5 separate regions of the Homo sapiens genome follow, and regions 1, 2, 4 and 5 are each reported to be linked to region 3. Evidence: microRNA targets listed by miRTarBase, many of them from high-throughput screens and not tested one by one. Region 3 holds a microRNA gene; each other region holds the end of a gene's coding sequence.
Evidence for each region. Region 3 holds the annotated microRNA hsa-miR-3976 (UAUAGAGAGCAGGAAGAUUAAUGU, at 3,070-3,093, shown strand). A microRNA usually pairs through its seed, bases 2 to 8, with sites in the 3' UTR of a target mRNA and lowers its output. Matches are read on the target gene's strand: a 7mer-m8 pairs with bases 2 to 8, a 7mer-A1 pairs with bases 2 to 7 and ends in A, and an 8mer does both.

Region 1: the mRNA of NKAIN1 is a reported target of hsa-miR-3976. The part of its 3' UTR that is shown has no 7-base or 8-base seed match.
Region 2: miRTarBase lists RBMS1 as a target of hsa-miR-3976. Seed matches in the 3' UTR shown: 7mer-m8 at 2,628-2,634.
Region 4: the mRNA of SEPTIN8 is a reported target of hsa-miR-3976. The part of its 3' UTR that is shown has no 7-base or 8-base seed match.
Region 5: miRTarBase lists ZNF675 as a target of hsa-miR-3976. The part of its 3' UTR that is shown has no 7-base or 8-base seed match.

What each region holds. Positions count from the first base shown.
Region 1 is chr1:31,178,369-31,182,368 of GRCh38, reverse strand. It overlaps NKAIN1 (sodium/potassium transporting ATPase interacting 1), which reads left to right. Exons shown (of 7, transcript NM_024522.3): 6 at 428-509; 7 at 657-2,624. The coding sequence ends at 666. Among named protein-coding and RNA genes, the nearest start is that of NKAIN1, 60 kb to the left of the region's middle. RefSeq lists a silencer at 506-755.
Region 2 is chr2:160,270,876-160,277,586 of GRCh38, forward strand. It overlaps RBMS1 (RNA binding motif single stranded interacting protein 1), which reads right to left. Exons shown (of 14, transcript NM_016836.4): 12 at 6,428-6,508; 13 at 4,755-4,839; 14 at 1,276-3,889. The coding sequence ends at 4,762. It overlaps LINC02478 (long intergenic non-protein coding RNA 2478), which reads right to left and starts at 1,020. Exons shown (of 2, transcript NR_103775.1): 1 at 845-1,020.
Region 3 is chr18:5,837,633-5,844,343 of GRCh38, forward strand. MIR3976 (microRNA 3976) reads left to right here and starts at 3,063; the gene lies at 3,063-3,201. The region is part of intron 4 of MIR3976HG (MIR3976 host gene); the gene reads left to right.
Region 4 is chr5:132,748,729-132,752,728 of GRCh38, forward strand. SEPTIN8 (septin 8) reads right to left here. Exons shown (of 10, transcript NM_001098811.2): 10 at 2,091-3,453. The coding sequence ends at 3,288. CCNI2 (cyclin I family member 2) reads left to right here. Exons shown (of 6, transcript NM_001039780.4): 3 at 620-694; 4 at 2,129-2,269; 5 at 3,238-3,468. Among named protein-coding and RNA genes, the nearest start is that of CCNI2, 3.3 kb to the left of the region's middle. RefSeq lists an enhancer at 2,913-3,122.
Region 5 is chr19:23,648,450-23,655,160 of GRCh38, reverse strand. It overlaps ZNF675 (zinc finger protein 675), which reads left to right. Exons shown (of 4, transcript NM_138330.3): 4 at 455-2,360. The coding sequence ends at 1,935. Among named protein-coding and RNA genes, the nearest start is that of ZNF675, 35 kb to the left of the region's middle.

The sequences.
Region 1 (4,000 bases), not on the chromosome of region 3:
CGTTCCAGGCTGGGGTCCAGACGTCCAGGTGCCCAGTCCCTGGCCCCAGCACCCCCTTTCCCCAATCTCGCCCCACCCCATCAGAGGTCTTGTCCCGTTTAGAGGCTCTAGCCCCGCCCCTGAGAGCCTTCTCTCCCATAGGACTGCCCGGCCTCCCAGGCCCAAGCCTTAAGGACTGGGGCCTGACCCTCAGCTGGCCCGGCCTCGCCGCCTCCAGACCCCCAGAGGCCCATCCCTCAGGGTCCAGCCGAAGCCCCGCCCCAGGCCCTGCACGGGGTCTGACCCTCGCCCCTCCCCTCCTCATGGCTTCTCTGGCTCCGCTTCCTAGGGTGGGAGTCCTGCCCTCAGATTCTTCCCCTTCAGGACCCAGTCTCCCTCTCCTCGCCCCCGCCGCCGATCCCTAACATGCGCCGCCCCTCTTCCGCAGTTGACTTCATCGGCGGCTTTGACTCCTACGGATACCAGGCGCCCCAGAAGACGTCGCATTTACAGCTGCAGCCTCTGTACACGTGGGTCACGGCCCCCTGCTGGCTTGGGGAGGCCTGGGCGTCGGGGTTGCGAAAAGGAGGGGATGGAGGAGTGGGCAGGGCAACCGGGTCTCTCCGCCCCCATACTTTTGGGATCCACTCTCCCTAACCTGCCTTTGTTTCCCGCAGGTCGGGGTAGCCTCTGCCCCGCGCCCACCCCGGCGCCTCGCCCTGGGCTGACCGCAGCTGCCGCGAGCTCGGGCCAAGGCGCAGGCGTGTCCCCCTGGTGGCCCGCGCGCTCACTGCAGCCTGTGCCCAACCCCGCGTCTGCATCTGGAGATGCGGACTTGGACGTGGACTTGGACTTGGACTTGGATTTGAGCTTGGCTCTTCGCAGCCCGGACTTCGGAGGAGTGGGGCGGGGCGGGGGAGGGGCACCACGGGTTTTTTGTTTTTTGTTTGTTTGTTTTTAATCTCAGCCTTGGCGTGAGCTGGGGCCTTCCTCTCTTCTCCAGCCTCTCCCTTTCACTCTTCACCCAGCATCCTGCCCCCCTGTCCAAAAACAGCAGGACATCAGACCCATCCCATCCCACCACACTCACTCACCAGCTCTGGGGAAAGCTACTGTGAACTAGGAGCAGGATTCCTGGGTTCTAATCGCAGGTCCATCACTGACTGTGACGTCTAGCAAAGCCCTTGCCCTCTCTGAGCCTCGGTTTCCGCACCTCAAGTAATTAATCCCTTAGCAAATGGACTCTTTTAGACTTCTCATTTAACTCAATTCCCTGAGCTAGACTGGGATTAAAATTCTCATTTTGCAGTACATTAAAACTGAGGCCCAGAGATGTGATTTGCTTGAGGCCACACAGCTAGATTTTTGGTGGAAGTGGGCCTTGAACACAGTGTACTTTCTGCAGTTTCTGACTGTAAAACCCAGTGTCTGCTCTCTGAGTTCCATTTCCAAGCCCCCCTCCATCTTGGACCTATGTGGTCTCCACCATATTCACACACCACCACCACCACTTGCCAATGCCTCTCTTAAAGCAATATACCCATTCGTTCTCTTATTGGGAACTGGATGGATGAAGCCCCAAATTCAGCCCCACCCACAGAGAAGCCTTCCTACACTCAGCCTCTGTCCACCCTTGGCAAATCTTTCAAGCTCTCTCCTCCAGGAAAGTGGGGCCCCAACTCAGTCACTCCACCCCCTTCCAGGTCCCTGAGGCTGGTTCTACTGTATCCCCATCACCTCCACAACTCCACTCACCCCTGACGGCTCCATCCACCTCACCAGTTGGAAGGCTTGTGGTTTCAGAGAGGAGCAATGCTGGTCAGCGCTGCCCAGACTCCAGTGTTTACAGATCACCAGCATTTACAACCAATCCAATGGCCAGAAGCCTCCTCTAACAAGCCCAGAAGGAGTTCTGAAGGGGCAGATGGGGGTGTGAGTAGTCGGGGAGTCGGGATTGCCAGCACCCTCACCCTTCCTTGGGGGCAAGTAGAGGTGAGAACACTTTCCCCACCTCCCTCCACAGACACTCCTGAGGACGCTGCATCCCACGCACTGCCTGGTGCGTCCATAGAGAGAGGATCAGGTCTCAGCATTTCATCTGTGAAAGAGGCATGGCCCTGGGTTAGAAAGGAGGGCAGGAGACATGGAGGAACTGGGGGGCACCCAGATGGTGCAGATGGTTTGCACACCTGAGCCTGTCTGTGGTGACCATTCCGCTCCTCTCCCACTACCCTCCAATCTATCATTCCCTACTCTCTAAGGCCAAAATATCCTGAGCAAGGCTGGCAACCCCACCCCACCATCCCAAATGCAAGCAGCCAGGCCCAGGAGTTCCTCTGGCCCCCACAGGCATGGAGCTCCCAGCTGGTGGGTACAGCTTGAGAGGGGGGCAGCTCCCTCAGGCTAAGCTACTGCCCTTCACTGGGCCAGCCCTGCCTCCAGCCCTCACCTCTCTCACCCCAACTCTCCCCCAAGCCCCTTTCTACTCAACGGGTGTAGCCACTGGTGCTTTGAAGCCTTTTGTTTTTATAAGATGGTTTTTGCAAGGGGACCAGGTTCTCTTTTCACTGGGACCTTGCAAGGAGGGGAGTGCTCTCCTGGTTTCTGTGCAGGCGGGTTGATTAAAGATGGTGTTTTCTTCTCTATCTTCCTGTCCTGCCCATTGGGTCTATAGAACTTTCTAAGTGAGAAGTCCCTGCATGAGGGCAGGCAGGAATGATTTGATGTTGATGTTATCAAATATTCCTGGGGTGGCCAGGCACGGTGGCTCATGCCTGTAATCCCAACACTTTTGAAGGCTGAGGTGGGCAGATCACGCGAGGTCAGGAGTTTGAGACCAGCCTGGCCAACATGATGAAACCCTGTCTCTACTAAAAATACAAAAATTAGGCAGGGCCGGGAGGCTGAGGAAGGAGAATCACTTGAACTTGGGATGCAGAGGTGGAGTGAGCTCAGATGGCGCCACTCTACCCCAGCCTGGGTGATAGAGCAAGACTCCATCTCAAAACAATAAAAAAGAAACAAATCCTGGGGCACTGGCCTGTAACTCTGACTGGGTGTGTAGCTTTAGGCAACTCACTCTCCCTCTCTATACTCATCCAAAAAAAAAAAAAAAAAAAAGCAGAGGTCAAACAAAATCAGTGGGTTCCCAAATGTGGCTTCATAATCCCTTAGAGATCTTCCTACTTATTTTCCTGATAAAATGCATTTTAAGTTTATGCTTTCAAATATCCTTTGCATCTTGGCTCTTCCTGAGAATTCAGTTCCGGGTGTGGAATGAAGTGACACACAGTGCTTTAGACACGGATTCCTGCATCCAACCTTTGATATCCTGGATACTTTTCTGGGGATACAGCGCAAGAATCAGTATTTAGAATGTTTTAATTTGTGTGTCGGCAGGTATGTGGGTGAACGGGTAATATGTATATAAGGTACAGAAGTCAGAAGGTCCCAGTGGGATTATATACTCATACCTTTTTTTCATATCTTTCTAAGGATAGGCCTTTTTTAAATTATACAATTTTTGGTCAGGCATGATGGCTCATGCTTGTAATCCCAGCACTTTTGGAGGCAGAAGCAGGAGGACTGCTTGAGCCCCGGAGTTCCAGACTCACCTTGGGCAACATAGGGAGACCTCATTTCTTTAAAAAAAAGAAAAATGTAAAAATTAGCTGAGCATCGAGTGGCACATGCCTTTAGTCCCAGCTGCTCAGGAGGCTGAGTCAGGAGGATTGCTTGAGCCCAAGAAGTTGAGGTTGCAGTGAGAGCTGAGATTGTGCCACTGCACTACAGCCTGGGAAACAGAGTAAGACTGTCTCAAAAACAAACAAACAAAATTACACATTTTTTTGTTTTTCACACAAATGGCAACATATTCTACTTACTCTTTGACCCCCTGCTTTTTTTCCCCCCCCTTGAGATAGAGTCTCACTCTGTCTCCCAGGCTGAAGTGCAGTGGCGCAATCTCAGCTCACTGTAACCTCCGCCTCCTGGGTTCAAGCAATTCTCCTGCCTCTGCCTA
Region 2 (6,711 bases), not on the chromosome of region 3:
TCAGCTAGGTGGGGTTTATCCCCAAACATGCCACAACCCCTCTAGTTATATGGGAGCGGTAACTGTGAACCACCATCGCTGGCTTGATCCTCCCTTTTCCGTGGATTGGTGCTCCTGAGTATGTTTACCGGTTTCAGTACATAACACAGCCAGATAGAGGGCCGCGGACTTCAGCGGCGAGAAGCTACAACAAAAATAGGGTGAACAAAAACGAAGGTGCCCAGGAGCCTGAATTGCATTTCTTTCTTACCTTTGGTCATAGAAAGGAGCACTTAGGTGTTTGGCTGGAACGCAAAGTGAGACCAGAGCTTACATTCTTAGCAGCCTGGGTTTGTCTCGAGAGGCCATGCTTCTCTCCTCCCTGACATTTTGCTCTCAGAAGCACCAGTTAGCATCAGAGGAATGTTGTTTCCTTCTCTGAAACAGCCATCAAGTACCAGCGATTTCTTGGCTCCGGCAAGTTAAGTGCTCTGACCCCTCCCTTATCTAACTCACCCCGCACACCATCCACATGGCAGGGGACGCAGCCAGAAATGGAGCGGACTGCATCTTTTCCTTGCCCACTCTTTTTATCACCATGACAGAGCCACTGGACACCAGGAAATAAATACTGAACCACCACACTAAAACGTTTACTCCACTTTGGGCAGAAGGAGCCTATTTTGCATATTAAGTGCCTCCTATAAAGCAGTCAAGTGAGGGAAAGAGGAGTTCTCGCTCCTCCGTGAATGCTGCACGGGAGCCTCCAGTCGGGAACAGCTGAACAGGTAGCTCTGAAAGAGGACCTTGGTCATAAACGCATAGATAAGATTATCCCGAGGTTCTCGCCCACATGCTTCCTTACCACAGGTGGGAGGGCTGCTGTTAGGCTGTCTTCCTTGCTGAGCATTGACAAGCAATGAAATAGTTGAGGCGTAGCAGCAAGAAAGGAGGAAGAAAAAGGGCCTGGTTTTTTGGTCTTTAAGAACAGACCACTAGTGGTGTATTTTGGGCTGGATATTTGCTGAGCCGACCGTTGACGTGCTGAGCTGACGGTTGACGTGCTGAGCTGAGGGTTGACGTCTCTGGTCATTACACAGATTTAAATAACCAGCAAAAGTGGGGTGGAAAGGTTTTTCCAATTGTTTTCAAGGAAATGTATTTTGAGGATATATTGAATCTGACATAACTTTCAACTCACTTTCAAACCAATCTACTGAGCTGAAGAAAGAGATCAGAAATGAAATGAAATTCTGATATACACTTAATCGACTTAAAAAAAATTGACAGGAAAAATAAAATTTCAGATGTTTTTTATTCAAAGGTTCTCAAAAGAAATAAAACAGAAAAGCTAACAATCTGATCAAATGTACAGTTCAAAAATGTCTTTTGGCGTTTAACAACAAGTCCTAGGAAAGAAAACTACAGAGTTATCTTGAACCGGACAAATAAGTTACCACTGGCAAGTCTGTGGCACTAGTAAAACAAAAATAAAAAATTAACTCTCTTGATCATATAGATATCTCTATGAAAATCTTTTTTTTTCAATCTGTACAAAAGGTCTTTCTTCATAAATTAATTTTTTTATAATTTAATGGCTGTCTACTATGTGATGTTTAACTGATTTTTTTTTTTTTATGTACAGAGGTTATGTTTCCCAAATCTTACCCAGACGAGTATGGCACTTAGTTCAGACATTTCTAGCAGCAGATTTCCCCTCCCCTCTAACCGAGCTATCAAATTTCTGTCTTAACTAATGCAAAAATATCAAGTAGTGAGAGACCCAGGTTTATAACTGTACTAGGTACACAGAGGGTGCTGCGTTCAGTCTGGACTTTCACAAAGCAGTAATATTCCAGGGAGCATAGAACCAATAATACCACAACTTTAAAAAAATGAAACAAAAACAAAAACAAAAACACATTTCTCTTATGACTATGTAATTTTCACTAGAATCTACACTTCTCAGAGCAGCAAGGACTTTTGAAACTATGAAATGTCACTGACATCTATCATCAAATACAAGCATAAAATTTAAGAACTAAAAAATACTTGAAAGAAATAACTGCTTAGCCCTAGCTCCTGAGCTAGGAGGATTTGGTCTGTGGAAACAGGGAGGGCCAGCAACCTGTCCCAGCACAAAAGAAAATAGACTCTGAGGTAGATAACTGATCATACACAGCTGACCAGACAAGTACACAGTTTTGGAAGACAACTTAATTTACCATTGCTTTTAAAACATATGCAATTGCCTTAATAAAAGAGCTTTAATAACAGTGAATTATCTTATATGTACTAAAGTAGAAATAACTGTGTATTTATGAATCAGGAATTTCATAGTTTCAAAATTGGTTTTCTTTACACTTGAACACTTGTAGTGATGATGTAAAGTGTGGCACTGCTTGGATCCAAATCTTCCTTCATGCTTTTTTGTTTGTGTGTGTCCATACATCAATTAAAATTATAAAACCTAAATGCAAAGGTACAAAAAAGGCACATTCTCCTAACCGCAAACTGGTCCGGCAAAAATAAAGAGCACAGAAGATGTGATGCTGAGACAAGTTGGAGCTACTGGTTACTGGCTCTTCGGTCTTTGGTGAAGTTACCTTTAAAAGTGCCAAGTCATTTTTATTTTTCAAATTTACCTAATAGAGAGAGAGAGAGAGAGCTAGTAGCCAATCGTTTTGCTTCTATTCGTTATCTCAGCTTATGTTTGAAGATAAATCCTTACTTTTAGCTTTTGCCACTTTGTTGCAATAGCAACATTTTTCGGTTTGCCAGATTTCAGGCATAATTCTCATTCTAAAGCACTATCATTAGTATAAAGGAAGGACAAAACATTCAGTGACTCCCCTCCCCCACCCCCATCCCCAACCCCAACACTACCTACACTAAATCTAGTACATCAAGTTAGCTTTTTTTTTTTCCTGAAAAAAGGCAAAAAAGACTTTACATTGCATCATACAGCAGATATCCTAAATCAGTCAAACTATCAGAGGAAACTGTTGGCGTACAGCCTTACAAACAATTTACCCTAATAAAAGTTCCCCAGTCAGAAAATGTGTTTCACACAAAACATTTTTCCCTTCTTGCATTTCACTACCTTACACATTATGTGAAAAATCATTAAAAACACCTACTACATATTTAAAAAAGCCAAAATTTCAGCAACTTTTATTGACTACCTTTTAAAAGCCCTATGCTGCTGTTTTACAAGGCATAATAGACCAGCTCATTTGGTCAAAGCATTCTACATCATTAGTTTGAACTAACTTTTACTGAAACAGCTACAGCATCAAAAGAGTTAAGGCAAATTGGAATTCATAGAAAAGGATAAGACACTTCACACTACGTTGAAAGAAAGACAGAAAGCTAAGAAAAGAGACACTGACGGCAACACTGAATTACAGCAACACTCGCACTGCAAGCACAGAACACCATGGGTGAAGTCGGACTATTTAAACTTCAGAAAGCCCATTTCATACAGCTGGAAAAAAAAAACACAAATTAAACACAAAATGAACAAAACCACAAAAATCCGGTCATGCACTTGGATAAGTCTTCATGGTCTTTGTGCATACCCAGAAAATTGAAGTTTTCTTTTCTTTTTTTTTTTCTTTTTCTTTTTTTGCATCATAACATTTGATAAAAATCTTTTGTTTTTGTTTTTTGTTTTTTTTTTTTTACTAAAATAAACCTGTTCGGGGGAACAGCTACTAGATGAATTTAAGGGTTTTATGCACCTTATAGAACTTATAGCAAAAATAGTTTTAGTTGATTTCATTATAAATAACGTTTTCAAGAACCTGTGCAAAACTGTCAATAATTTCCTAAAGCACAATTGATCAGAAAAATCCATGATTGTTCAGCCTTCACACCCTTCTTCATGTAAGAACACCTTTCTGTACATCTGGAAGAGAAAAATAAAAGACAAATGCTTTTGTAGATTTGGTGTGAAACACTACAGAGCTTTGTAATCTGTTTCTTGTTTTAAAGAGATATGTGTTTGAAAAAGGTTATGCTCATCACTGATGGTAGACTGATAAATGCAGACTCTGGAACTGATGGTTACTTTCAATGCCTGTCACATCCAGGACTTGCAAAATACTTTCTTTTCTAATTTAGAGCCAAATTCATTTGGGTCTCTAAAGAGTGACTTTATGAAATCAAAAATACATGTTATCACCAGGGCAATCCAGAAACCAAGGTATTCTATATCACCAGGGCAATGCAGAAACCAGGGTATTCTAAGTTCTACACAGCTATTTTATTACAGTCTGCATGGTAAAGTGAAAAGTTTTGAAATTTGTGGTTCAAGTGAGAGTTGGGAATATAATCTTTCAATCTAAGGATATTGACATTTATCTAAATTCATAATCAAGATGTTGCTAAACTTGTAATGCTAGATTGAGCAACATCTTATGCTATAGGTCCTCCAGTTTCTGAGTATTAAAGTAATATGATATAGGATACTTGTATTATAGAACAATTTTGGTTCTTGGTGTTCTCTGATGTTACAGATTTTTATTTTTTTCTTTTTAGTGGGGAGAGTATACATTTGGCTTCAGTATAAAGCATTCTCTTTAGACAAAATGATTAATCTTAAATTCATAAAATCACTGATTTTAATATTTCAACAAGACTAGATGCCTTGGCCACGATTAAAGCAGTATGATAAAATCCGAGTTATCCCAATCACCATTCTGATTTTAAAAAAAGCCCTATAGATTGTGCTTGATTTGAGCCCCCCAGTTATGAAGACCTTTCCCTCATACCTCACAGTTACTTATTAGGTTGAAAGGTATATGGAGAATGGTCATTAGACGTCTCGACAGCCACCTGCTGTTGACCACTTGCCTCCTACAACAAACAAAGCAGAATGGATGAGACATGTTAGTGAAAAAACCTCAGCTCTGCTACTTAGGCCTGACTGAATCCAACAGTGCCTTAAAAACAGTTACTCTTTAAAGTAAATTTCTTCACGTCATGTAGAGCTTTCAAGGTTAATCATTTCCCTAAGCAGCTGGCATGTCTAACAGACCCAAAGCACCTCCCATCCAAATGTTTATGACTTTCCTATTCTTATCAAGCTACAGCATATCAAACAAATCTCTTACCCTCTTATCCCCTGGGGACAGATGTGATTTGGAATTCAGTATTTTCAGATTTTATAATCTGAAATGTGGTATGCATATGCTGTATATCATTTAATGCCTCCAGTAGGGTCTAGGGCTGCACCTCATAAGCAAACATATTAATAGTTCTACACTGGAAGCCATGAAGCAGCACAGTTAAGTGGGATCAAGATTTTGTCTCATCTCAATTCAGGTTGAGTTTTGCCATAGGTCAGGTTTTATGCTAAAGTAGTTACAAAGATAATTTTTATTTTCAGATTTCTTTTTGGGTTTCAGATTGCAGGTAAGGAATTGTAGGCTCTGGTAACTGTGGTTGTCAGTAATTGCACAAACAGAAGTAAAATACTACTACCACCACCACCACCACCACCACCACCACCAACACCTACTACTACTACTACTGCTACTACTATCACCACCACCACCACCACCTCCACCAACAGGCCAGAGTCCTATGATCCTTTCCTGGAATTGGAACCTTTGGGATCTGCCTAGTGGGCAAGATCAACTGGATTGATACATTTCCTTGAAATTTTAAGGATACTTTGCAGGAAAATGCCACGTTTTCTCTCTAACCATAATTCAAATGCTAGACTTCTTTCTTTCATATCAGTATCTTCCATAACAAGAACAGTTATCTAGCCATACTAACAGCCTCTGTAAAAACAGCTATAGCTTCTTCTTCATCCCTGTAGCAGTTTCAAAACAGCTTTCTCTTTTCCACTAAGTATCTTAACTACAACTGATTTCTTTTCGTCATTATTAATTATCATTGATACGATCTTTAGTACTGGGACTGCAAACTCCAGATTTATCTTATTATGTCTGTAGTATCATTTTATGAGAGACAAGACAGAACGTCCGAGGGGTATGAAAGGCACTATAGGCTTAGAAAATATTTCTGGGAGTCTTAAGAGGTGTGGCCTGGATGTTGTTACCCTAATTTGTCATGATCATAGCTCACTGTAGTTGCAAACTCCAGGGCTCAAGGGTTCTTCCTGCCTCATACTCCTGAGTAGCTGGGACTACAGGTCCATGTCACCATGTCTGGCCAATTTTCAAACAATTTTATTTTTTGTAGAGATGGGATCTCACTATGTTGCCCAGGCTGGTCTCTAACTCCTGACCATAAGCAATCCTCCCTCCTCAGCCTTCCAAAGTGTTGGACTTACAGGCATGACCCACCACATCTGGCTAAACGCAATTCTTTATGCAAATATTTGACGTCTGGTAGATTTTTCTGAGTTCTATTTAATTTACCCATTTCTGAAACTACTTATAGCCAGAATGGTCACTGGATGGTCTCTACCAACCTCAACAGGAACCGCTGTCGTCTGCATATGTGCATACTGTGGCAAGTAGGCTCCTTGCATAGCTGACGTTGCAGGCATGTACTAGAAAGAAGAATGAGGTCAGAATGGGCAATGGTAAACCATGCAAAATTTGGAGTACGTGGGGGGATTGTGAGATGGATATAATGTATTTGGAAATCTCAAAGAAGAAATTTAAATGGGCTACACCTCAAAGCTTAAATAGTGCATATAAATATGTCATATGGAAGGTAAACTGTTTTCTACTTTTTGAATCTGCTAAACTA
Region 3 (6,711 bases):
GTGAATGACAATCCGTCGTTTCTAATTAAAAAAGGAAGAAAGAAAAGGCTCGCATATTGGTTTTTAAATTACTGGGCTGCAAATATTTTCTTTCCAGGTATCCAAATCTATATTAAGACCTATCTTCATTAAAAATGACTTATAATATTTAGCTACTCTCAAACACCTCCCTTGCTTTCCAAGGGCTAGGACTAAATAGATTCAGATACATGATGCTGTGGTATTAGGATATAATCCAAAGTACGTATTTGGTCCTCATTCCCAGGTTTCTGCCCAGAGCTCCTAAAACCCTTTTAATTTCCTAAGTGATAAGAGTGATAAAGGTGAAAGGAGCATCTTTTGTTATTCATAACAATCCCCTTTCATCTACACCTGAGCTTATGTTGATGTGATAACTTTTGGAAAGCCCCTAAGGATGGGGGCTGGTTGCCAGGGGAAACAAACCACAGGATTAAAGGCTCAGAACTTGCAGCCCCACTCATCAACCTCTGGGGAGGGGAGAGGGGCTGGAGAGTGACCTAATCACCAATGGCCAATGATTTAATCAGTCATATCTATATAATAAATCATCTATTAAAAATCCCTAACGAGGAGGTTTGGAGAGCTTCTAGGTTGATGAACACGTGGAGGTGCTGGGAGGGTAACTGCACCCAGAGAGGACGTGGAAGCTTACAGCCCCATCTCCCATAGCTTGCTCTATACATTTCTTTCATCTGGCTGCTCCTAAGTTGTGTTCCTTTTTATAAAAAATCTGGAATCTAGTAAGTAAACTGTTTTCCTGAGTTCTGTGAGCCGTTACAACAAATTATCCAACCCGAGGAGGGAGTCATGGGGGCCCCCATTTATAGCTGGTCTATCAGAAGCACAGGTGACACCTGGACCTGTGACTGGTGTCTGAGTGGAGTTAGTCCTATGGGACCGATCCCTTAACCTGGGGGATCTGATACTATTTCCAGGTAGATTGTGTCAGAATTGTGTTAAATTGTAGGACACCCAGTTGGTGTCTGCCCGATAATTGAACTGAATTGTAGAAGTGTTGAAAGTGTTGTGTGAAAGTAGAAAAGGAAAAAGGTTTGTTTCTCTCTTTGATGGGGACATTTTGTTTGAAATCCCTGTGGCACCATGGCTGGTAAGGCTGTACCAGGTGTGAGTCTTTTTCACCTTTTCCCTTCATAGGAAAAGAAGGCAAAAGAGAGGAGGGGCTATTGGCCTTTGATAAGATTATCAGGTAGACTACCTGTAACCCTTATCCCCCAACTCCTAGCCGTTGGTTCCCTGGGACTGTTTTCAAACACCTATTCATAGGGACCTGGAGTCAAAATGTATCCATCTGTTCTCACTATCTCTTGAACTCTGGAATAACTACATGTAATACATTGCTAATCATTACCTTTCCAGGATAACATATTTTTGTAAGCTACTTACGGCTTTTTAAGAAGTCACCAGTGACCTACTAGTAGAAACTTGAGATTCATTCAGAGGGAGGCATTTTTCGTAAGAATAACTTTTAGTGGTCTGCTTTTGAAAAAGGCTGGCCTCTTGGAGACAACTGCCATTTTTGAACCTAGAGGCCCGTTCTGCTGCCCCCATTGCTTACATTTGCATATGCCGCAGAACTTATTTCTGGGCTCCATGAAACTGCTGCCTACACAGCCAATCTGCCACTTCTTCTGGCAGAGGCCTCTGTGCACAAGTGTGCACACCACACACATACAGGGCAGGGCTGGCCACGCTTTTCCACAAATCCAGTTTCCGAAGAAGAATAATGAGATGCTCCACGGTCCCCTCAGAAGAAGGGTTGCTAAAAAGCAACAAGACTCTAGTGAGTGAAGTCTCTGAGCTGGTGCTGATCTCGGGGAAGGCGAATGTGGATGAAAGGTGAGGGGGCTTATAAGACATGAATGGGGAAATGGAATAACTAGAGTGGAGCACAGGCAAAAGGGGGAAATCTTCTCTCTTCTTTCTCTACCTGGCCTAATGTGAGCAGACGTTATCAGAAGGGATTCTGTTAAAACAAAGTCATTTTCTGTGACATGGTTTGTACTAAATGGAACAATGCTAGTTTTGAGTTTTCAGTGTACAATTACCAAGGGGACCTTTTAATAACTTCGGCTATTCAATTGCTAGATCATATATTGCCATTCCCTAGATTGTTGCAGTAAAGGTGATGATATAACTTGCATCCCATTGCAGTACCTTTCTTCATCACTTGTTTACCAGGAGTCAGAGAGAGAGCTTTTCAAAAAATGAGCATAGACTTCCAGGCAGCAAAGCTTTCTAATCCCACCTGACGGTCCTCAAGTTATCCAGAGCAGCTTCATGGAGAAGAACAGTAATTAGGTTGATTGAATCCTTACGCCTGCATGGCTTTTCAGCTGCTCTGATGCATTCTTTTGAGTATAAATAAGTTTTCAATGAGTATTACAGAATGGGCAATACCACAGGAAAATACTGCCAGTAAGCTCTGATTTTAGATGCTGGTCCCAATGTAGCTATTTAGTTCCTTGAATTGTTAGCTCTCTAAAGCCCTGTCTCACCCTCCCTAAACCCATGAGCCTAGATGGTTGGGTGTAATGAAGAAGTCTGAGATCATAGAAAAGCTGTCTGGCTTTTCTGGAAATTAAACCCTGACCTTTGTCTCAGTAGCAGCAGGCTTTAAGTAGCACAGCCCAGTACCATGTCTTGGTTTTGGTGATTTCTTATACGACTAGGGTGTAATAAATAATTTTGAATGATGCCTTCACATTCTGAAGCCATAAGCCTGTTAAACATTAGGTCACGAACTTTTTCTGGTTTGTCTAAGACATTGTTGGCCCTAGCACTGGAAGTCCCACATCCAGGAATCCCCTCGAACTAGGGCAAACTGAAATGATTGACCCCCCCCCCCTTTCTTAAAAGGTATAATGCAGCTTTCCTAGGATTGGATCTATTTCTCTGTTTGTTTTGTCGTCTAGATTTCTTGTTATATCAGTGCCCTCCCATCAGGTATCTCCACTATATAAGCGGCACCAACCAGCACATTTAACTGAGGGAAGGGGTGGGCGTGAGGCGGGAGGATGGAATGAGGGATATAGAGAGCAGGAAGATTAATGTCATATTGGAGTTGGACTGCAGGGCTTCCTTTACACAATAAATATTGTATGAAGTGCTGATGTAACCTTTACTGCAGCATGACATGGGATTTGGCTGTTTTTATGGCTCATGATTAAAGTAAGAAACAAGTCTCTGATTAGATGATTCTTTTTCCCCCACAGACCTCTGTCCTTCATATTTCCAAGAATGCTATTTTATTTATGCAATCCATCTAACTCAGACACCAAAATATGTAGATCACAACCTAGACAACATAAAGAAGCATTCTTTTTATTCTTGGCCTCAGATTATTTATAATCTAAAATGCTAGCTTTGATGAGCATTGCAGGGAAAGAAAGAGTTGAGACTGGCAGATTTTACCTCCTTTTAAAAAGTATACTATCTGCAAGTGGTGAAACCCATTGATATTTTGTTGAGGTTGCATAAGAAAATAGATGGGTTTTTAATGATATTAGTTTGTTTTAGTTGCAGATAGCTAAATACAGTCAGCTAAAAAGCAAATTGAGCTCTAAGGAACAGAATTAAATAATTTGGTTTTCTCCTTCTGGTCTATCCTATTCAGTAATTTAATTATTTGTGAAACTTTTAAACTCAATTGACTCATTGAATTTGTTCAAGTTGGTTGGTGTATGGTGTTACACTCATTATATATTTTTTGGTCCTGGTCCAGAAATTAGCAACTCAGCTTTATTCAATCATAGAGAGCCAACTATATTTGAAATGCCTGTGCTCAGTGTTTAATGTCTTCAAGTTATATCAATTTTTAAATTCAGAACATTAATCTGCTTATTATGTGGAAGTGCAATAAAACTATCCAGTTGAAATTGAGGAGGTTTTTCTTCTTTTTGTAACCCTTTATATAAATTCATTGGATGGAAATTTTAAAATTCAACTGTGATGATGAAGGCTAAAAATTAAAATGATCCAGTATAAATAACACCAGAGGGTGAACCCTCATAAATCAGCAAGTCTGTTGTTAAAAATAGTTCCAAAATATTATTCTAGCTATTAGATGCCATCTACTGGTTGTAATTACTATATGATACAACTGGCCATGGTTTTAATGCAAACGGAGAATACCCAAGACATCTACAGTTAAAATTCAAATCGTGTTTTATGGCATTCATATTTTGTGCAAATCAATCACTGAATAAGCTAAGCTACATTTTGAAATTCAGACTGCATTTAGGAAAAAAGCTACTGTGAACCAGAATGCCTTACTTAGATTTTACTTGTATTTGTAAAGTTTGGTCTTCCAAGAATTTCTGCATGGTGGGGCCAATATGATTTCTGGTGATTCTACAACTTAGTTTTTTTTTCCAGATGTAGTACAGTATATAGGGATCTGGAGATAGTTCTTTGACATTGTACCTGAAATGCATTTTGCAAAAGCAGTCAGATGCCAGCTGTTCTTCATGTAGGATGTGGAAGTGTGACAGACACAGTGGTTCTTGTGCTGTTGATTAACACACACAGGCTCTATCTGCATTTCTGTATTTAAGAATGATGAGTACTGATGTCCATTACAAAGAAAATTAAGTATGTAAACCAATCTCATGACACTTCTTGTATTAGTATACAGAGACTGTGCTTATGCTCTAGGAAGGAATAATTAGGTACACTACGGATAAAGAAGGTAACAGTTCCCTAGATATCTTAAATTAGAGGAAAGCACACAGATAGCAAAGTCTGCTAATGAACAGGTGCTGGCAAATTGCAGCCTGTAAATCGAATCCAACTGGCTGCCTGTTTTTGTGAATAAAGTTTTATTAAAACACAGCCATGCCCATGTGTTTGCGTATTGTTTAAGGCTTCTTGCAACAGCAGAGCTGAGTCATGGAGACAGACACCATATGGCCTGCAAAACCTAATATATTTACTATCTGGCCCTTTCAGTAAGTTTGCTGACTCCTATTCTAGAAACTTAGACTCTTAATTAAGGCTATCATTTAGTGGAAATCCTAAATCAGCATCTTTGCTTCCATCAGCATCAATTTTGCAGCAGCCATGGCTTGTCCTATGAGAGATGATTCTACCACAAGAACCCAACCACAAGGACGGCTCCTCTTTGAAGTTTTTACAGTCGATCTCTGGATCAGCCAGCGAAGTCCTGCTCCCAGGATCCAGGGAGAGACCATGGGTGCCCTCTAGGGCATGGTACAAAGGGAGGATTTGTTCCAGTAGAGAATAGAATAGGCCTTTTCTTTCACCTTTTGGTTTCCAGGTGCTGAACTACATGTAGGAGTCTTGGTAGTAAAACCAAGCTTAATGGTTATTGAAATAGAACTACCAGAGAGGTGGTAGAAGCACATGTTTTGTACAAGTTGGTTAACTGCCAGCAGCTTTGAATCGTGTAACTGCTTACAAAAAATTTCACATGGTCCAGGAATAAGAGGAAACAAATGTATGAAAAACAAATTCCCAGATACTTACATTTAAAATAAAAAGCAAACTAACAATAATTTGGAAAATTTATACTTTCATATACTACTTTTATGTAGAAAAAAGATTCAGGAAACTCCTAAAGCTGATTGTTCAAATGTCATATTTATTGATATACCCAAGGCCCTTCTTTTTGTTAAAACTACCTACATTGATGATAACCATGGAAAGAATAGGATTCGCGTATTATCTTTCTAGGTACTTGTGAAGACATCGTCTCTTTTGTTCAAAAATGCTCTATGGTAAAGAGAGGGAAAACTATTTTCTATCTCTAACTTCAATGAAAAAAAACAAAGATTCAGAACAGAATGTATCAGAACTGAACTGTGGGTTTGGATAATTACTTTCTGGCTGTGATGTTGGGGTAAGTTATCTCTTGGGGTAAAAGAAAAATCTCTAAGCTTCAAATTCCATCAGCTGTTAAGTAAGATAATATCCACCCCATGGAGTTATCATAGGGATTGGGGTTGTCCCTTGCCTTGCGTCGGAGAATTTGACTGGTACACAGTTCCTTATGATGATTTCAACTTTTCCTAACTGAGAAGAGTGACTCCCTGTGCCTATACACAATGTGGTTTTACACTGAACACCTGCTTTCCTTCTGGGAGTCTGAACTGGTTACATGTTAGGCAGAGGGTGCTTATGTGACCAGCTCCCCATAAAAACCTTGGGCTTTTCTAATGAGAACCTTGACTTATCTAATGGGCATCCCTGGGCAGAATCAGCAGATGCTTGTTGCTGAAGAAAGAAGCATGCTCTTGGGTGTCCCCTCGCAGGAGGGAGAAAGCATGAGGAAGCCTGCACATTGGTTTCTCAAGACTCCACCATGGCTTTTTCTCTTACAGTCTGGCTGTATATCATTACTATGTTGCTGGAAGGAATCTTAGCCATGATTCAAACTAAATGATCCCCATGAGTTCTTCTAGAGAAACTCCAAGTATTAGGGTAGTCTTAGGGACCCACAACACACTATATGGTTTCTTTATATTTTAATGCTAACTTGGTTAGGCTAGCCCACTAGTTCCCAACCTTGGCTATAATTAGAATTACCCAGGAAATTACACACACACATTACTCCAACTGCCTGTACTCAGTCTCAGACCAATTACATCAGGATTTCTGCTGTGTAAGACCCAGCAATTGGTATTTTTTAGTTCTGACATCTCTATGTGGTTC
Region 4 (4,000 bases), not on the chromosome of region 3:
GGTAGGATGTGCTTGTCTCGACCTGTCGAGGGCAGCTTGAGGCTAGGATGAGACTGGGTTCCCTGAGAAGGTGCCATATTTCCCACCTCCAGTCAGTCCCGAAATGAAGGAATACTGCCCAGTCATCTGCAGTTCTGAAATCAGGAGCATCTTCGTTGGTCAGATCTAAAAACGGCACTAACATTCTGTCTTGTGGAGAAATTGAGCCTTTTAAAAATGGGAAAAAAAAGCTTATTAAAACAAACGGCTGGGCGCAATGGCTCACGCCTGTAATCCCAGCAATTTGGGAGGCCAAGGGGTGTGGATCACTTGAGGTCAGGAGTTGGAGACCATCCTGGCCAGCATGGTGAAACCCTGTCTCTACTAAAAATACAAAAATTAGCCAGGTGTGGTGGCCCGCCCCTATAGTCCTAGCTACTCAGGAGGCTGTGACAGGAGAATCGCTCAAAATCAGGAGGTGGAGGTTGCAGTGAGCCAAGATCATGCCACTGCACTCCAGCCTGGGCAACAGAGTGAGACTCCATGTCAAAAAAGTGTATAAAAGAAAACAAACACAGATGCTTTTCAGTTTGTTTCTGGCATTCATATTCTGCTCAAATGTGTTTGTTCCATACTGCAGGTAAAAGAGAAATACCTGCATTGCGCCACAATTACTTCCTTGAGGCTCGCTGCAAAAGTTAATGAAGAAGAGGAGGTATGCATCCTTGGAAGTCCACACTGGGCTGCACTTGAGGTATAGGGGTGTAACATTGGAGGACTCCAGTTTCCTGATAGGTCTGTGCCCTTAGGTATGGTGGATGTTTTGAAAAAGTCACCAACTTGCCGGCATCTCTGCTATCCCTTCCATCGGCTTGTCAGGCTTTGAGACCCCACAAATGAACAAGTAGAGCAGCTGAACTGTCCTGGCCCACCAAACCTAGAGACCTGAACTCTTGACAGATACATCTGGCCTCACTGGTTGATGACAGATGCTACCTCTCTCTAAACAGGGGCATCTGCTGTTGAGCAAGGAAAAAGGCCTCCCAAACCATGTGACTTAACATCCACCCCAAGCAATTATGTCTAAGAAAGCTGCTTGAGACTTGAGGACTTGGCTGTGTCAATGAAGCTGGTCCTTGGGAACTCTGGGACCCCTGAGAGGGACAGGAGGGCCATGTGCTGGGGGTAAAGTACAAGGGGCCCATGAGCATTTCAGGCATGGCTGGATGGCTGAATTTCACTGTGGCATCTGTTCAGGAGGAGATCATCTCCTAATACCCTTTCCAAGCTTTCCTACCTCCCTCCAACTTCTCCCAGTTTGGGGATGGTGAAATCACTGCCATTGCCACGGGGGTCACCCTTAGCTGATCTCTGGGTCTGAGGAGGCAGGGAAGAAGTTGTGTGTCCAGTTCCAAACCTTCAATAAAAATGTTTTAAACTCCTGTTTATTAGAATAGAATTAATGCCCAAGTTGCTTTTGTCCAACTAAAAATCAAGTGACCCTTTTTCTGGAGGTTATAGTAATACTTCTGTTTATCTAAAAACATAGGATCAAGCCTTTAATGTACTTGGTACTCAAATGTTTACTCATAGACAAGCCTCATTAGTCCCTCTGTGGGAAAAGCCATAGTTTTTCCAGAACTGAACCACCTTCAATCAAGGTTGAAGGAAATGTGTTTGCAGTTGCGATGCTAAAAAACCCATAGGAGGTTTTATCAATGTGTCTGGTACAGACTAGGAAGCTCAAAAGCATAGTTTTTTTCTCTATGCCCAGTACCCACGGTAGGGATCAGGAATAGGGAGAGGCAGAACCCATGGCTCCTGGAAAGCTTGGGGTGAGTTCTTGCAGCTGAACAGGGGAGATGGCACAGCCCCAGCCTCCAAAGCACCTTTGGGTATGAGCTAGCATGCAGCTGGGGGATCAAGACCCGGTTTCAGAGGGGGACCATGTGATGTTCACTACATAACTACCTGAGGATTTGACAGATAGCCAAGATCTGGTTTAGTATTTCTTTCAGAAGCATTTTCTGTGGCAGGCCACAGGAAGACAACTCCACTAAGGTCATGAATGCCCAGTCCCCATGGGTAAGAAAACAAAAGCTACTATGACATGATGTAGGGCTTTGGCCTCTTTATTTTCTTTTTACAGTTTATTCCACAAGTAAAAGACTTCACAAAGCACTATGGCTCTGACTATTCCCCGAATGAGCTGCTGAGGATGGAGCTGGCTATTCTGGACAGACTGCACTGGGACCTCTATATTGGGACGCCGCTGGACTTCTTGACTATAGTGAGTAAGGAGGTGTTTACAGAGTCTACCCTAAACTCGTTTGTGCCTTTGGAACAGCTGTTTACAACATGGGATGGCAAAGCACAGGCGTGCACACGCCCTTGCACATGCACCACAGTGAGGTGACGCACAAGGCTCATGACATACGGAAGAGTGAAAAGGTATCTTAAATCCAACACAGTTCCACCAGACTCCCACTTCTAAAGGACATTAAATTAACTTTACAAAGATTTTTAGACGGCACTATTATGGTGAGTTTCTCTTTTAAATACACACTGCAAAAATATTTAACTTTCCATTCTATGAATACTGTACATAAATATCTGTCTGCTTTTGCTACACTTTACACACATTCACTTAGCTGTCTTTATTCACCTACACACAATCCTTATTGAAGCTTTAGACCATATTGATCTGGCACTTAAAAAAATATCATACATTAGTTTGTATTTGTTTTAGTTGGGGGAATGATGGTCATCCTTAAGGATATGATTCTGTTAGTAAGGCAAAATTATGCAATGTGGAAATCTCATGGGGTTTTGGTTTGTTATGAAGCATGAAGATTAAATTACTAAAGACTGTTTCATTACGAAAACTGGCCACCGTTGCCAAGTTGCAGAGTTTCGTCTTATGATAAGCAGATACAAGTAACTTTTCTGCTACCTTGGTCTTGAATAGTATGTTTCTATTTTTCAGAATGGAAACATTGTCATCTAGGTACTTTCCGCTCATAACGATGATGTCACAAAGCAGACTTTTTTTTTTTTTTGGTCCCGGAGTGGAAGCTCAGCTTGGCCACAGGATGGGCATTAAGCCTCAAGCCCCTTACGGAGCCATGGATAGGAATGAAAAGGGTTGGGCAACATTTGATGTTCCCTGATGGAAATTTAAATTGTTTGCACTTTTGATCATTGATATAGGAAAAGTATGGCGTTTTCTGTTCTAACATTAAAAACCATGGTCTCCAGTTCCATGCCCTGGTGGTCCTGAGCTGGCCCCATGTGTTGGAGCTGCTGCCTCAGAGGAATCCTTCCCTCCACGTCGCATCCCTGACCAGGCAGCTGCAGCACTGTATGGCGGGCCACCAGCTGCTGCAGTTCAAGGGCTCCACACTGGCCTTGGTCATCATCACCTTAGAGCTGGAGAGGCTCATGCCCGGCTGGTGTGCTCCTATATCTGATCTGCTAAAGAAAGCACAGGTAGACATCAACTTTGCCCCAGACCAGGCTCTGTGTTTTGCCCCTTTAGCTGACACACTCTGACCCCAAAGGGGTACCCTTTGCCCTTGTAGCCTCTGGAAAATGTTCTGGCCATAACCCTGGAAAGAGTCTGCCCAAAGGCTAGGCTTTCCACACTTGGTCACGCTCTATGCACTTGAGATGGGACATGTGTTCCCTTCACTGGACCAATGGGGGTGGTCTCTGAGAGTGAGAGAATCTTTATCTCAATGGGAGCCCTTGTAGCCAAGAGGACTGTGGGGAGTCAGGGGTATGTCTGGCTTAGGAGGAAGCAACCCTGAGCTTAATACTGAGGAGCATAAATTCTAAACTCCTTCACCTCTCCTTTGTATGAGTGTGTGGTACCAGGTACAGGGGTACCATGAGGCAAGCATTGTGGGGGCACAAGGAGGAGAGGGGTGTGTCAGAATCCCTCAGAACAGATAGGTTAGGATGGAATGCATAGTTAGACTAATGACAACTTTACTGAGGTTGGAAATGGATGTCCCTGAGA
Region 5 (6,711 bases), not on the chromosome of region 3:
GGTTCAAGCAGTTCTCCTGCCTTAGTCTCCCAATTAGCTGGGACTACAGGCTCCCGCCACCATGCCTGGCTAATTTTTTTTCTATTTTTATTAGAGATGCGGGTTCACTATGTTGGCCAGGCTGGTCTTGAACTCCTGACCTCGTGATCCGCCCGCTTCAGCCTCCTAAAGTGCTGGGAGTACAGGTGTGAGTCACTGCACCTGGCTGTAATTTACTTCTGAAAACATTATGTTATATTGGGGAGTAGAAAAAGCTGTGTTGGGTAAATGTGACAGAATTTTTTTTTTTTTTCTATGTGGCTCTTTGCATTGTGCTCACCTGGGGCAACACATACACTTAATTATGGCCTGTGGTGCCATCTTGCTTATGTAGTTTGTGTAATTTTATAAGTTAGGTTTGGAAAGTATATTTATCTGAGTCTGTAAAGTAATGTGTTATTTTTATTTCTTTCAGTAATGTGTTCTCATTTTGCCCAAGAGTTTTGGCCAGAGCAGAACATAAAAGATTCTTTTGAAAAAGTGACACTGAGAAGATATGAAAAATGTGGAAATGATAATTTTCAGTTAAAAGGCTGTAAAAGTGTGGATGAATGTAAGTTGCACAAGGGAGGTTATAATGGACTTAACCAATGTTTACCAACTATGCAGAGCAAAATGTTTCAATGTGATAAATATGTGAAAGTCTTTAATAAATTTTCACATTCAGATAGACATAAGATAAAACATATGGAAAATAAACCTTTCAAATGTAAAGAATGTGGCAGATCATTTTGCATGCTTTCACACCTAACTCGACATGAAAGAAATTATACCAAGGTGAATTTCTGCAAATGTGAAGAATGTGAAAAAGCTGTTAACCAATCTTCAAAGCTTACTAAACATAAAAGAATTTATACTTGTGAGAAACTCTACAAATGTCAAGAATGTGACAGAACTTTTAACCAATTCTCAAACCTTACTGAATATAAAAAAGATTATGCTCGAGAGAAACCATACAAATGTGAAGAATGTGGCAAAGCCTTTAACCAGTCCTCACACCTTACTACACATAAGATAATTCATACAGGAGAGAAACCCTACAAATGTGAAGAATGTGGCAAAGCCTTTAACCAGTTCTCAAATCTTACTACACATAAAAAAATTCATACTGGAGAGCAACCCTACATATGTGAAGAATGTGGCAAGGCTTTTACCCAATCCTCAACCCTTACTACACATAAGAGAATTCATACTGGAGAAAAACCCTACAAATGTGAAGAATGTGGAAAAGCTTTTAACCGATCCTCAAAACTTACTGAACATAAAAACATTCATACTGGAGAGCAACCCTACAAATGTGAGGAATGCGGCAAAGCTTTTAACCGATCCTCAAATCTTACGGAACATAGGAAAATTCATACCGAAGAGAAACCCTACAAATGTAAAGAATGTGGCAAAGCTTTTAAACACTCCTCAGCCCTTACTACACATAAGAGAATTCACACTGGAGAGAAACCCTACAAATGTGAAGAATGTGGCAAAGCTTTTAACCGATCCTCAAAACTTACTGAACATAAGAAACTTCATACTGGAAAGAAACCCTACAAATGTGAAGAATGTGGCAAAGCTTTTATCCAATCCTCAAAACTTACTGAACATAAGAAAATTCATTCTGGAGAGATACCCTACAAGTGTGAAGAATGTGGCAAAGCTTTTAAACACTCCTCATCCCTTACTACACATAAAAGAATTCATACTGGGGAGAAACCCTACAAATGTGAAGAATGTGGCAAAGCTTTTAGCCGATCCTCAAAACTTACTGAACATAAGATAATTCATACTGGAGAGAAACCCTATAAATGTGAGAGATGTGACAAAGCTTTTAACCAATCTGCAAACCTTACTAAACATAAAAAAATACATACTGGAGAGAAACTACAGAACTGGAATGTGTGATAATGATTTTGACAACACCTCAAATTTTTCTAAATATAAAGGAAATCATACTGGTGAAAAATTCTAGAAATGTAAAGAATGTGTCAAAGACTTTAAATGGTTTTCACACTTCATTGTATGTAAGATAATTCATACTGGAGAAAACTACAAGTGTGAAGAATTTGGCAATACTGTTAATTAAGGCTCAAACCTTATTGCACAGGAAAGCGTTTATACTTAAGAAAAATTGTACAAATATAAAGAGTGTAAAATAGCCATTAATATCTGTTGACATCTTAATATCAGAATGTTGGTACTTAATAAAAGCATTATAAATGCAATTACTGTCTAAAGACTTTAAGAAAATATAAGCCTTTAAAGTGAAGAAGAGTATTCGTTTTGAAGACAAAGATTACAAACATAAAGAGGGTTGTAGTACATTTACTGGTATCATAAAGCTTATCATGTACATTTTGTACTAGAGAAAAACCCTGAAGCAGTTGCTCAAAGTTTTTTCAACATCAGTGAATCTGTATGGGAGAAAAACTCTGCAAATGTAATACATTTAGAAAAACACATTTTTTCAAAATCTATAGCTTTAGAAAACACCAGAGAGTTAGTACTAAAATATATTTCTGCAGGCTGGGCGCAGTGGCTCACACCTGTAATCCCAGCATATTGGGAGGCCGAGGTGGATGGATCACCTGAGGTCAGGTGTTCGAGACCAGCCTGGTCAACATAGCGAAACCCTGTCTCTACTAAAAATACAAAAATTAGCAAGGCATGGTGGTGAGTGCCTTTAATTCCAGCTACTCAGGAGGCTGAGGCAGGAGAATCGCTTGAACTGGAGGGGCAGAGGTTGCAGTGAGTCAAGATCGTGCCATTGCACTCTAGCCTGGGCAACAAGTGTGAAACTCCATCTCTCTCTCTCTCTCTCTCTCTCTCTCTCTCTCTCTCTCTCTCTCTCTCTCTCTCTCTATATATATATATATATATATATATATATATATATTTTTTTTTTTTTTTTTGTAGATGCAGTAAATATAAAACAATATTTATTCTAAAATTAAGTCTATGTAAATATCAGATAGCTCAGAAATATCTAAGGCACTGACACTTCAGACATTACAGTAAATCAGAATGCTGAGTATAAAAAATAATCCAGAACTAAAGTTGTTAGATAAATTGTGTATAACTTTAAAAGGTGTAGAAAATTTTTTGAAAAGTTATAATTACATTGAAAGTATACTTTTTTCCTTAAAAAATACAGATTATTTGCAACATGAATAATGTAATTCAACTCTCAAAATTCAAAACTCTTCTTGTTTTCTTCATTTCTATTGTATTCAACTTGTGACTAATTGTTGCATCAGAGATAGGAGAATTTTTTTTTATTAGTTGGGCATTATGATCTTTTTTATGGAAGGGTAAGGACATTAAAATGTAAGACACATAAAAATCTAAGTGGAGAGGCTCTTTTTGTTAATATAAGTGACACATGAGGTGGGTGTTCAGGGTAATATTCTGCATTATAGTGAGAAAAAAGCATTTTAAATTTTAGTTAAAATTAGTAAATTATTTTACTAATTGTACTTTTATGTAATAAAATGTACGTTCTTAAAATTTTAAGTTATGTGTGAACTTAATATTTTATTAAAATTTTATTTAACATTTATAAAACATTTAATAAAGTTAGTATGCCATTAACTTTAACCTATTTCACTTTACTCACTGGTGTAGGCAAAAGATGGTAACATACTATTTGGTAACATAATGGACAAACATTTCTAGTAATCCCTTTTGCCAGTGACTTTAAACTGCAAGGAGGTTAAAGAATGTTCTCATAGGTTAAATATTTATTTCTCATCTAAGTTTATACTTTTTAATTTTTGTGGATACATTGTATGTGTATATTTATGCCATATATAGCACATTTTGATACAGACATATAATATGTAATAATTACATCAGGAAAAATTAAGTATCCATCATCTCCAGCATTTATCCTTTGTATTATAAACCAATTCTACAGTTTTAGTTTTTTTTAATGTACAATTGTTATTGACTACAGGGCTATTTTTATGGTTATGCTAAAAATTATATAGAAGTATAAATAAAGTCCACACATTCTGAGTCCTAAATAAGCATTAAAAAAATTGTTATATGTATTTTTGAACATGTTGTTTCTCTGCCTGCAAACACATACAGACTTGTTAGTTTTGACTTAGTAAAGTTAAATATATACATACATTACTCTTAAGTTAAACCCTAGGTGTAAGAAAATTATGGAGTAAGTAAGCATGTTTGTGTGAGTATAAATTTGTTCCTATTTTCAGAAGAAAAGAGCAATATTGGAACAAAACATTTTAGTAAGGTAACTAATTTACTAGAAAACTATAAACCTCAAAAATGCGGAAAGCAAATCTATACTCTTTCTACTGAATTACTGTAAAATAGTATGGCTTATGGGTTCAAAATCTTATGCAAATTTTGTTTTTACTTGATTGGTACTCATGCCTAGCCCACATTTTTTTGTTGTTTCTTACAATTTTTTTTCTTTTATAGTTTATGAGGTTTTCATTATGTGAAGTGGTCAAAGATATAAACTATTTTTATAAAATTTAGTAGGGCACACAAAATAATTTTTAGATGTAGTTCCACAATTAGTGTATTGTTTTATTGAATTAAAACATTCTATTTTGTTCTTCTAATTGAAGAACCTTATATAAGCCTATTTAAGTTATTATTCCTTTCACTTTTTATAATTGACAGAAGTAAATTTATTTGTTGATTGAGCCAGTTCAGGTATTGGGGGAACCCGCCCCCAATATTTCAATGTAGGTTCTTTCTATTTTCCATAAGTGTCAGCCGGCTGAGAAATAGAGATAACACAGAGAAAGGAATTTTACAGCTGGGCTGCCAGGGGTGACATCACCTATCAGTAGGACCATGATGCCCGCCTGAGTCTCAGACCAGCAAGTTTTTATTAAGGGTTTCAAAAGGGGAGGGGGTGTAAGAACAGAGAGTAGGTACAAAGATCACATGCTTCAAAGAGCAAAAAGCAGAACCACTGATAAGGGTCTAACAAAGATCACGTTTCTGAGGGAACAGGGCAAAGGGCAAACGCAGAACCACTAATAAGGCTCCAACAAAGATCAAAGGGCAAAAGCAGAACCTCTGATAAGGGTCCAACAAAGATCACAGGGCAAAGGGCAAAAGCAGAACCACTGATAAGGGTGTATGTTCAGTAGTACATGTATTGTCTTGATAAACAACTGAAAACGGTTGGAGAGCAGAGAACCAGTCTGACCACAAATTTACCAGGGTTGAGTTTTCCCAACCCTAGTAAGCCTGAGGGTTCTGCAGGAGACCATGGCTTATCTCAGTCCTTATCTGAACTGTACAAGACAGACATTCCCAGAGCAGCCATTTATAGACCTCCCCCAGGAATGCATTCTTTTCCCAGAGTATTAATATTACTTGCTAGGAAAAGAATTTGGTGATATATTTCCTACTTGCACGTCCATTTATAGGCCCTCTGCAAAAAGAAAAATATGGCTCTTTGCCCGACCCCGCAGGCAGTCAGACCTTATGGTTGTCTTCCCTTGTTCCATAAAAGTCGCTATTCTGTTCTTTTTCAAGGTGCACTGATTTCATATTTTTCAAGCACACGTTTTACAATCAATCTGTACAGTTAATTATCACAGTGGTCCTGAGGTGATGTACATCCTCAGTTTATGAAGATAACAGGATTAAGAGATTAAAGACCGGCATAAGAAATTACAAAAGTATTATTTGAGAACTGATAAATGTCCATATTAAGATGAAATCTTAACAATTTATGTTCCTCTCCCACGGCTCCAGCCGGTCCCTCTGTTCAGGGTCCCTGACTTCCCATAACATTCAGGTAAGTACTAAGGAGGCTTCATAAGTCATGAGGATGTTTTAATATATAAATGTAGCAAAAAAACGTGACAGTGCTTGCCGAGTAACAGATGTTTTATAATCTGTAAATATTCCTGCTAGAGTTATTTTGTAACTTTAAGTCAGAGATGTAAAATATAAATGACAAAGAAAAAACATTGATTCTTTATGTGGATAGGATCTTTTTTTAGGCAGCAAACCTGAATCTTGCTGAATATAAAGCAAAATTCTGCTTGTTTTATTTTCCATTTATCTTCAGGTTTGTCTTACGTGTTTTCCAACTTTGCATGACATCACAGCACTTCTTTTTTTCTGTTTTATAGCTACAATTTTCTCACTTTTGTAATGCCATGTCATTTCACATGCTACTTTGTAGGTTTTGATGAGAAAGTTGGTATTTTTAATGCACTTGAAAAATTGTTTTTTGGTCAAGTGCGATGGCTCACACCTGTAATCCCAGCACGTTGGGAGGCCGAGGCGGGCAGATCATGAGGTCAGGAGTTTGAGACCAGCCTAGCCAATATGGTGAAACCCTGTCTCTACTAAAGATACAAAATAGCCAGGTGGGGTGGCATGCACCTGTAATCCCAGCTACTCCGGAGGCTGAGGCAGAAGAATTGCTTGAACCCAGGAGGCAGAGGTAGCAGTGAGCCGAGATTGCACCATTGCACTCCAGCCTAGGTGACAAGGCGAGACTGTCTCAAAAAAAGAAAGAAAAATTGATTTTAACTGGAGAGTTTGCTTATCAATGTAAGTTTTTTTGTTTTGTTTTTTTTTGAGACGGAGTCTTGCTCTATCACCAGGCTGGAGTGCAGTGGCACGATCTCGGCTCGCTGCAACCTCCACCTCCCTAGTTCAAGTAATTCTCCTGCC